2 linked regions of the Homo sapiens genome follow. The protein of the gene in region 1 purifies or fractionates together with the protein of each later gene. This does not show direct contact. Each region holds a gene or a part of one and is shown in the gene's direction. Other genes may lie near its edges.

What was found.
Region 2: the proteins of TRPC4AP (region 1) and EPB41L5 purify together in Homo sapiens (affinity purification with mass spectrometry; 2 studies listed by BioGRID and IntAct, with this or other methods). This does not show direct contact.

The regions. Positions count from the first base shown.
Region 1 is NC_000020.11:35,089,782-35,096,983, reverse strand, and holds the start of TRPC4AP (short transient receptor potential channel 4-associated protein), read left to right. Parts: upstream 1-4,176; 5' UTR 4,177-4,202; coding exon 4,203-4,370; intron 4,371-7,202. UniProt on the Homo sapiens protein: Substrate-recognition component of a DCX (DDB1-CUL4-X-box) E3 ubiquitin-protein ligase complex required for cell cycle control.
Region 2 is NC_000002.12:120,177,051-120,179,632, forward strand, and holds the end of EPB41L5 (band 4.1-like protein 5), read left to right. Parts: 3' UTR 1-2,069; downstream 2,070-2,582. UniProt on the Homo sapiens protein: Plays a role in the formation and organization of tight junctions during the establishment of polarity in epithelial cells.

The DNA.
Region 1 (7,202 bases):
AGCACAATATCCACAGCACCTATAACAGTGCCTGGCACATAAGATAGTACTTAACAAACATTTAAAAGACAAATCATGGAGAGGTTGTACATTAGAAATGTAATGTAAAAAAAAATCACTGTAAAAAATGACACCACAGGACAATGCATAGTTGCATGGGACAGCTGTTACCATGGCCTGATATAACAGTGCCAGTTGCTTTGATTAAAGTGACTTCTTGGCAGGGTGCCATGACTCATGCCTGTAATCCCAGCACTTTGGGAGGCTGAAGCGGGAGGATTGCTTGAGCCCAGGAGCTTGGCGGCTGCAGTGAGCTATAATCACACCACTGTACTCCAGGCTGGGCCACAGAGCAAGACTTCAAAAAAAAAAAAAAAAAAAAAAGTCCCAGAAAATCTGTCTGCCCAATTGAGATGAGTTTGGCGATTTATTTACAAGAGTTAATGTTCTCTGAATAGCATCATCATGTTTGGTTAAGCCATTTGGGATTACGGTGGAAAAAAAATTAGCCAGTTTGGGAGCTTCATTTTTTTTCTAGTGCTGATTAAAATTGACATCAACAGACCTCTGGTGGGAGAGGTACTTCGCCCTCTGGTGGTGAGAGACACTCAGCTTTTTTTTTTTTTTTTTGAGACAGAGTCTTGCTCTGTGGCCCAGGCTGGAGTGCAGTGGCGCGATCTCGGCTCACTGCAAACTCCGCCTCCCGGGTTCAAGCAATTCTCCTGCCTCAGCCTCCAGGGCAGCTGGGACTACAGGCGCGCTTCACCCCGCCCAGCTAATTTTTGTGTTTTTGGTAGAGACGGGGTTTCACCATATTGACCAGGCTGGTCTCGAACTCCTGACCTCGTGATCTGCCCGCCTCGGCCTCCAAAAGTGCTGGGATTACAGGCCTGAGCCACCGCGCCTAGCCTCAGCTAGTTTCTACGGAAAAGGCTGGCAGAGCAGAGGTGAAGTGGAAAAGAGTGTCTTTCCACAGAGGTTTCTGGAAACATGTCCCCTTACTTCATGGTCACATGGTATCTGTAAGGACTGAATTTGAGGTTGTCATTTTTGACCCAGTGAATACCCAGCTTTGGTGAATGCCTGGGCCAGGCTAGACTGACAAAGATAGGAACTGAGGAATGGAAAGTGACATTTGCAGTTGGGTCAAAGCTGAGGTGGGAAGATTTGTCCCTAGCATGATGAGTGCCAAGGGAAACCTGGAGGGCCATGTGAACTGTGAAATTAGTCAGGATCCTGTCTCCTCACCGCGACAAGGGTGAGAATATCCATCACCATATGCCTCAGGAAGAGCTCTGGGTGGAATCCCTGGGCTGTGGATTCCCTGGTAAGGCTGGCTGCTGCCCGGACAGCTCACCAATGCCCTGTTTGTATCCCTGGAAATGCCTTTTCTTTTTATGTCTTTTTAAAGTTAATTTCACATATTAGAAGACTTTTTTTTCTTGAATCTAGAAATGATACATAGCTGGTGCAAAAAGTTATGAAAAGTATTGTTATTGAACCAAAGTGAGGGCTGCTTACCTGGTGCAGCAAAGCCACTGACATTGGGATTACAGCAAGAGAAAGTGAGGCATTTATTATTGCACTTGCTGCAGGGTGCCAAGCGAGGAGAATCAAACAGCTTATGCTTAAGACCTGAACTCCCTTATGGCTTACAGGGGTTTTATTTTATTTTTTTGAGACAGAGTCTTGCTCTGTCGCCCAGGCTGGAGTGCAGTGGTGCAATCTCAGCTCACTGCAACCTCTGCCTCCTGGGTTCAAGCGATTCTCCTGCCTCAGCTTCCCGAGTAGCTGGGATTACAGGCACGTGCCACCATGCCTGGCTAATTTTTGTATCTTTAGTAGAGACGGGGTTTTGCCGTTTTGGTCAGGCTGGTCTCGAACTCCTGACCTCAGGTGATCCACCTGCCTCGGCCACCCAAAGTGCTGGGATTATAGGTGTGAGCCACCGCGCCCAGCCGGCTTACAGGTTTTTAATGGCAGGAGGGCAGAGGCCACAGGCGAAGTCATAAATCAATACATAGGGGCTGTATATTGGTTCCACCTAAAAAGACAGGACATCTCCAACCAGGGGCCCACAAGTGGATTCAAAGATTTTCTGACTTGTAATTGGTTAAGGAGGTAAAGCTTTGTCTAAAAATTTGGGATCTGCAGAAAAGAATGTTAGCTCTGACTTATGGTCGTGTCCTCCTCCAGGCCCCCTAGGAAGAAATTTATAACAAAAAATAGAAGTCAAAGTTTAGTTCTCAGCTCTCCCTTATCTGAGTTTGCCTATCAGCAGATCCATTTGGTGGGGGTTCGAGTTTCTAAGAAACAACACTCAGGGACAAATTTTAAGATGTTATATTCAGTTTCTATAGGGAACAAAATATCTCCTGACTGTAACTTCTTTGGCTATTTTTTTTTTTTTTTCTGAGATGGAGTCTCATCCTGTCATCAAACTGGAGTGCAGTGGCGTGATCTCGGCTCACTGTGACCTCTGTCTCCAGGGTTCAAGTGATTCTCCTGCCTCAGCCTCCCAAGTAGCTGGGACTACAGGTGCATGCCACCACGCCCAGCTAATTTTTGCATTTTTAGTAGAGATGGGGTTTCACCATGTTGGCCAGGCTGGTCTCGAACTCCTGACCTCATGATCTGACTACCTCGGCCTCCCAAAGTGCTGGGATTACAGGTGTGAGCCACTGGGATTACAGGTGTGAGCCACTGCACCCGGCTGAGTTTATTTTTGTATAATGTGAGAGATGAGGATCCAGTTTCATTCTTCTGCATGTGGCTTGCCAGTTATCACCAGCTGTTGAATAGGGTGTCCTTTCCCCACTTTATGTTTTTGTTTGCTTTATCGAAGATCAGTTGGCTATAAGTATTTGGTTTTATACTGTGTTCTCTATTCTGTTCCATTGGTCTATGTGCCTATTTTTATACCAGTACCATGCTGTTTGGGTGACTATGGCCTTATTGTATAGATTGAAGTCAGGTAATGTGATGCCTCCAGATTTATTCTTTTTGCTTAGTCTTGCTTTGGACATGCAGGCTCTTTTTTGGTTCCATATGATTTTTAGGATTCTTTTTTCTAGTTCTATGAAGATGGATGGTGAGTCTACTCCTTTTAGATGGGGTGTGAGGATGGTAACCATAGTGCCAGTTCACCTGGGAGAGTCACTTTTATGCCTACCGTCCCGGTGTAATTATTTATTGTGTCTTTTCATTCTTTAAAGTGTTCTGGTTTGAGCAGTAAGTTACAGTCATCTTAGTTATGAGTCACAATCTTCACCATTCCCTGTTACATCACACTTAGCTCTCCTCTTTCATTTTTATTACAGGCCCCCTGCTAGGAAGGGAAAAAGTGTGTGTGTGTTGGGTGGGGGGAGTCAGTGCCATCCTGCCACAGAAGTTAGCTGAAAAAATGAGTATTAGAGACAACATGCTATCTGGTGGATAGAAATTAGGACAGGGTTTTCATCTGACAGAGAATATGATGTCACAATTTACTAATCCCTTTCCCTTCCATTATTTAATTTCACAACAACCTACCCAGTTACACAACTTATCCAGTTTGAGACTGCGTTTCTTTGTGTATGGATCTGCTGTCTTCCCCTGTAACCTGCATTTCGTGATAAAGGATCCCAGGCCGTTCTGCTCACCACTGTATCCCAGACACCCTCCCTTTCCCCTAGACATGGTTTGGTGTCGGGCGCAGAGAAAGCCCCAGGAACTACGATTGATCAGGCTCCCAGAATCTATAGATGGAGTGACCTGACGAGGACACAGGCGCAGTGGCAGAGCGCGATGACTTGGTCGATGTCCGCGGTGAGTCACGTGTAGAGAGAAGCAGGCAGGAAGCGGACTCGAGGGCCTGACTCCTGACCTGAAGCCCAGGATCATTTCTTGGCCAGCTGCCTGCATCCTGCCCAAATCGGCGAGAGAAATGGGAGAATGTGGACCTTGGGAGATTTCGCCGAAATGCTGGGCCCGGGGGCCAGAGAAACCGGCAGTGCAGGAAAGGCCACATCTCTTTTCCCACCTACCCCGCTGCCGCGCAGGACTACAATTCCCAGTAGCCTCCACGCCGCACACGGTCCCTGCCACGCGGCTTGCGCCTCCGCCGACGGCCCACTGGGGGCGCTGCGGCGACCCCTCCGCCGCCCCGTAGAAATCTCCGCGGCCCCGAGGCCGCTTGCTTCCTGTTTGTCCGACGAGGAGACATGGCGGCGGCGCCGGTAGCGGCTGGGTCTGGAGCCGGCCGAGGGAGACGGTCGGCAGCCACAGTGGCGGCTTGGGGCGGATGGGGCGGCCGGCCGCGGCCTGGTAACATTCTGCTGCAGCTGCGGCAGGGCCAGCTGACCGGCCGGGGCCTGGTCCGGGCGGTGCAGGTACGAGGCTGGACCAGGAGGGGCGGGGCGGGGCGGACCAGGCGGGAGCTGGCGGGGGGCCGGGGAAGAGGCCTTTCCAGGCCGCCGCTGGACGGGCCAAAGCCCTTTTGGCTGGCCGGAAGGCCTCCCTGTGAGCTGCCCGGACGCTCTCAGCTGCAGCGGGGCCGTGGGAAGCAGCTGGCTTGATGTCCCTTGTCAGGGGCCGAGCGGGGCTGGGCTGCTGTGGACACTGATGGCGTGTACGAACCCTGGGCCCAGTTTCTGGATCCTCCCTTCTTTGCGCCACGTCTACACGTCTGGGGGACCCTGTCGTGTTTGTTTTAGCCTCTGTGGGCCTCGAGTTTATCCCGTGTATTGGGCGTGGGGGAGGGGGTCATCATTGCAGCCCCCAAATGGTTCCCGAGCATTTCATAAATGTCATTTTCTCAGGCCTTTCCTTGACACTCTTTCCTTCCCCTTTCTAAAGTAGGTCCCCATTGTTATTCTGTCACAGCCGCGAATTCGTTTCGTTTACATTACTTTCTTAGTCTATAATTTCGTATTTCTTTGTTGTCTGCCTTTTTCTCGCCCGTCTCCCACATTAGGCTGAGTTCCAGCGGGTGCAGAGACTATATCTGGTTTGCTAGTGTAGAGCGTCACGGTTAAGAGGGACTCTGGAGTCAGGCCTGGGTTCAAAGCCCTGCTCCTCTCTCTTGCTTGGGCAGGTGACCTTTCTGTGCCTCAGTTTCCTCACTTGTAAGATGAAGATGAGAATTAGTAACCTACCTTTTAAGATTGTTGTGGAGATCAAAGGGGGCAATTGTGTAAAGCATTAGTGCATTTCTGGTGCATACTAAGGGCTGAAGGTAGTTAATATTAAGCATCTGACTTATAACAGGTGCCCAACATATGATTATTGTTATTTTTGAGTGAGCGAAGGACACTGCTTTAGGGTAAACCAGGTTGAATAGGACCTAGTCCACTACTTCTTCCACCCTCCCCCACCCCGAACCTTGCTAACACCTGTAAAACATTAGCTTTATTTAAAGACAGCTTTTTCATAAAAAGTTTGAAGGATACTCAAGAAACTGATAAAGTGGTTGGTGGGAGTGAGGTGGGAATTGGGCTAAAGGGGGAGAAAATGGGAGTGAGACTTTTCACAGTGTAACTTTATTTAAATTTAATTTGAATATCACTTCCTCAAATGACGAAAAGGATAGAATAAAATAAAGGCTAGGGGGTCTGTGTGTATGGAGGACTGTGGACGAAAGGAGCAGTTGTGAGTGAGAAATGTTTTCCTGGCCATCACACAACCATAGATGAGCAGCCTTTTTCCCCCTTGTGTTCTTAAGACCTGACTTAAGACCCTGTAATCCCAGCACTTTGGGAGGCCGAGGCAGGCAGATCGCTTGAATCCAGGAATTCGAGACCAGCCCAGGCAACACGGCAAAATCCTGTGTCTCCAAAAATTTAGCCGGGCATGGTGGTGGTGTGTGCCTGTGGGGAGGCTGAGGTGGGAGGATTACCTGAGCCTGGGAGGCGGAGATTGACAGAGTGAGACCCTGTCTCAAAAAAAAAAAAAAATCCTAGAAATACTTGCTCTTTCCTTCTTAAGCTAAGATACCTTACCGAGCTGGGTGTGTAGAGACAGGCAGAAAGAGGACTAACTTTTAGTGAGCACATAACCTTTAGAAAAAGTACGGTACAAGGCATATGTTATCTTTAATCCTCAAGCTTTTGAGTTATGCTTCAAGACTCATTTCTTAATATGGATGAGGAAACTGAGGCTCAGAGAGGTTAGATGATATGTTCCTAAACACCCATCCTGATAATCAGTGTTCTGAGAATAATAGGGAGCCACAGAAGTTCTTTAGCATGATAAATGAGGCAATTTAGGCAACTTAATTTGTTTCCAGTGCTGAATGACTTAGAATGGGAGGAGCCTAGAAAAGCCCACCAGAGGCTGGGCACAGTGGCTCATTCCTGTAATCCCAGTGCTTTGGGAGGTCGAGGCGGGTGGATCATCTGAGGTCAGGAGTTTGAGACCAGCCTGGCCAACATGGCGAAGCCCCGTCTCTACTAAAAATACAAAAATTAGCCGGGCGTGGTGGTAAGCACCTGTAATCCCAGCTACTCTGGAGGCTGAGGCAGGAGAATTGCTTGAACCTGGGAGGTGGAGGTTGTGAGCTGAGATCACGCCACTGCACTCCAGCCTGGGTGACATAGTGAGACTTCATCTCAAAAAAAAAAAAAAAAAGCTCACCAGATACAAGGCTGCTGGAATATTCTGGAGCCACAAAAGCAAGGCAGGTTATTGTGGTAACTGATGGTTGTATATAGGTGTGGGAGCTATTTCAGAAGTTGAAGTAGAGACCCCCTGCCTGGAGCTATAGTGAGGATAAAATGGGGACCTTCATCTTTCAAATATTTCTTTTCTTAGTTTTTTTTTTTTTTAATTTATTCCATGCTGTGCCCTTCCGCTCCTCTCTCCCATCCTGCAGAATAAGTTATTTGCTTACCCTTTTTTTTTTTTGAGACAGAATCTTGCTCTGTCACCCAGGCTGGAGTGCAGTGGCAAGCTCAACTTCCTGGGCTCAAGTGATCCTCCCACCTTAGCCTCCCTAGTAGCTGGGACTACAGGCGTGTGCCACCACACCCCATTAATTTTTGTATCTTTGGTAGAGACAGGGTTTTGCTCTGTTGCCCAGATTACCCATATTTTTATACTGTTATGGCATGTGGTATAGTAGGAAAAGACCAGATTTAAACATTTTTTATTTTTTATTTTTTAGACGGAGTCTCGCTCTGTTGCCCAGACTGGAGTGCAGTGGCGCAATCTCGGTTCACTGCATC
Region 2 (2,582 bases), on another chromosome or scaffold:
ATTGGCCCCGACAGATTAAATGCGTGTTGGGGATTGGTTTCCTGTCATAGCTGCTGCTGCTGCCATGCGCAGAGCTGCTGTAACAGCTCTTCCTGTTCTGCTCCCCTGAGAACAGTGTGGTGGGGAGAGGCAGGGCTGAGGTGGTCTACGAATGTGGCAGGTAGGGAAGGGGAGATGTCTGTCTCTTGAGAAGAGAGAGGCATGTGTGCCGGCATCCTTGATGGGTTCAAAGAGAAAGGTTGGAGATGATAGTGGGTGAGAAGCAGGCTGGTGAGACTGGGCTGAGGTTGGAGAAGGGGCAGCCGGGGGCACTGCTGAGGGTTTGCCGTGCACGCCTCGGACGGAGCACGGTGGGGTGGCGGGGAGCAGATAGTGCTGCCTCCCTGCGGGCAGACAGGAGAGGAACCTCAACTCAGTCCATTTCATAGCCCTGATAGGGGAAGTGGGAGTTGACAGGATGGTTTAAAATAAGACGTGAAGGTTTCAGTTACCTGCTCTAGACTTTGCCTGAGAACTTGTAAATTAATCAGTGAGACCTAATTTGTGACATGTCAGTAGCATCATCTTTTGACACACAGGAGGTCATGGTCATTTCATTCCTACTCTTCAGGAGACACTGCTGAACAGAGGAATGATTCTGTTCCTTGTGTGCTTACTTCCTTAACATTTATACATTGTTTTAAGAAAAAACTTTTAAAAATATTTCTTATAGTCTCCTAACATTTGTCTCTAGCCTTTGCCTTTGTACAATCACAGATATCCTATGGAGATTTAAGGATGAAAGCCCTGAGTTGTTCTTGGGTTCTTGGATCTGGACTACTTGTTATCTTATGCTTCTCACTTCTGGCTAAAACTTGCACCTCTTCTTCTCTTAGCTAAGCCCCAAAATGAAGATTTCCTTCAGAAGTCTTGTTAGCAGAATTATTTATCAGTCACAGAGAGAAAAATCTGCTATTTTTCTAAGTAAGAGTCTCGAGAAGCAGAGTTTTTGTCTTGTCATTGAGAGGAGTCAGCAGTCTTGTTCTGTAAAGGACCAGAGATGGTAAATACTGTCCCACTCAGCTCTGCTGGCGCAGTACAGCAGCAGCAGCCCCAGCACAGCTGTGTTCCTGCGGAGTCCCCTTTACAAAGCCGCTGACCCCTGATGTGAAACTTTGTAGAGCAGCAGAGTGGCTGCGTGAAACGGGAGGCTGGCAGGTCCTCAGATAGGTTCTGCAGTGTTACCTGTCACTTGGAGGCAGCCAACACTTCTGGACATTGCATCCTTATTCACACATGTGGCAGCTGAACGAGGTGCTGTTGTGGGTGTCTCAGCTCTGAGGGTCTTTGTGAGCTCCCACTGTTGTGGGTGTCTCAGCTCTGAGGGTCTTTGTGAGCTCCCACTGTTGTGGGTGTCTCAGCTCTGAGGGTCTTTGTGAGTTCCCACCAACTTTTAATTATTCATGCCCTTGACCATGTGGTTGCTTGGAGACCTGGGGTCTTCTGCAGACTGAAGAAGACACATTTCTAGATTATTTGTCCTTTTTATCCTCTCAAAAATTTAAACACTGTACCTCTTCAGTGGTCAGAAGAAAGTTGGAAACTTTTCCTACATATTAGGCGTTAGTATGAGGACATTTGTTTGAATTATAGAAATTTGCCCTGAGCTGAACTGGGTTGTGTTAACACATTGGTAGAGCTATGATTCCTTCCCAGTTCTAAGAGATACGATCTGTAAGTCCCTATGTCACCACATTGCTTGAGATGATCATTCAGTTACTTGTCAGGATTTCTCCTCTTCAGAGAGATTTTTTTTTATAGCACAGATTCCTTTGCCCCTTTTATCTCCTTATCTGGATATGATAAGTGGTTATGAGGGTCTCACTAACTATTTTGTGTTTACCTTTTATATGTGTAAAACTTTGCAGTAGCATTTAAAGTGTAATTTATTTTTCTATCAAGTGCACTATTCATTTAGTGTGTTCCAGTTTTATATGACTTGTATTAGAAACACTGCACTGAGTTGTTTGTACACTGAAATGAGAACTCTAGATGTAACTCTATTCAAATAAACCTTCGTGAGACATTCATGTTTTTGTGCACTGTTTCTGTTTCTTGGAACTGTGATTCCTACATGCTGACCTCAACAGAGTTAGACCAGATCCACTGTTGGTACAAACCTGAGGAAGTGAGCAGAAGCAGCCGCACTGTTTTTAGGTTGATTTCCATGTTTTTGTGGTGTAAATTTGGGAGTAGGGGCATTTTCAAAGGTTGAAAACCTCATTGGTCATCCCCAGCATATCCTGGAAGGCACGGTGGTCATTCCAAGGACAGCATGGTGCAGTATCACCACAGCTTTGGACATCGGATCTGGGCTCTACTGCTTAATACCTCAGGTTTTTTGTCTGAAATGGCACATGAAGTGTGTGTCACAGCGTGTGGTAGAGTATGCAGGTGTTGACTTCTCCTTCTCTTGGCGCCCACCAGTCCCCAGCCTTCTCTGGGTTTGCACTGCACCATCCAGCGAGGAACAGTGCCACCTGGGTTGGTTTCAGGACTTCTGCTGGGCAGAGTCATACTGCACCATATGGGTGTTGGCAAAG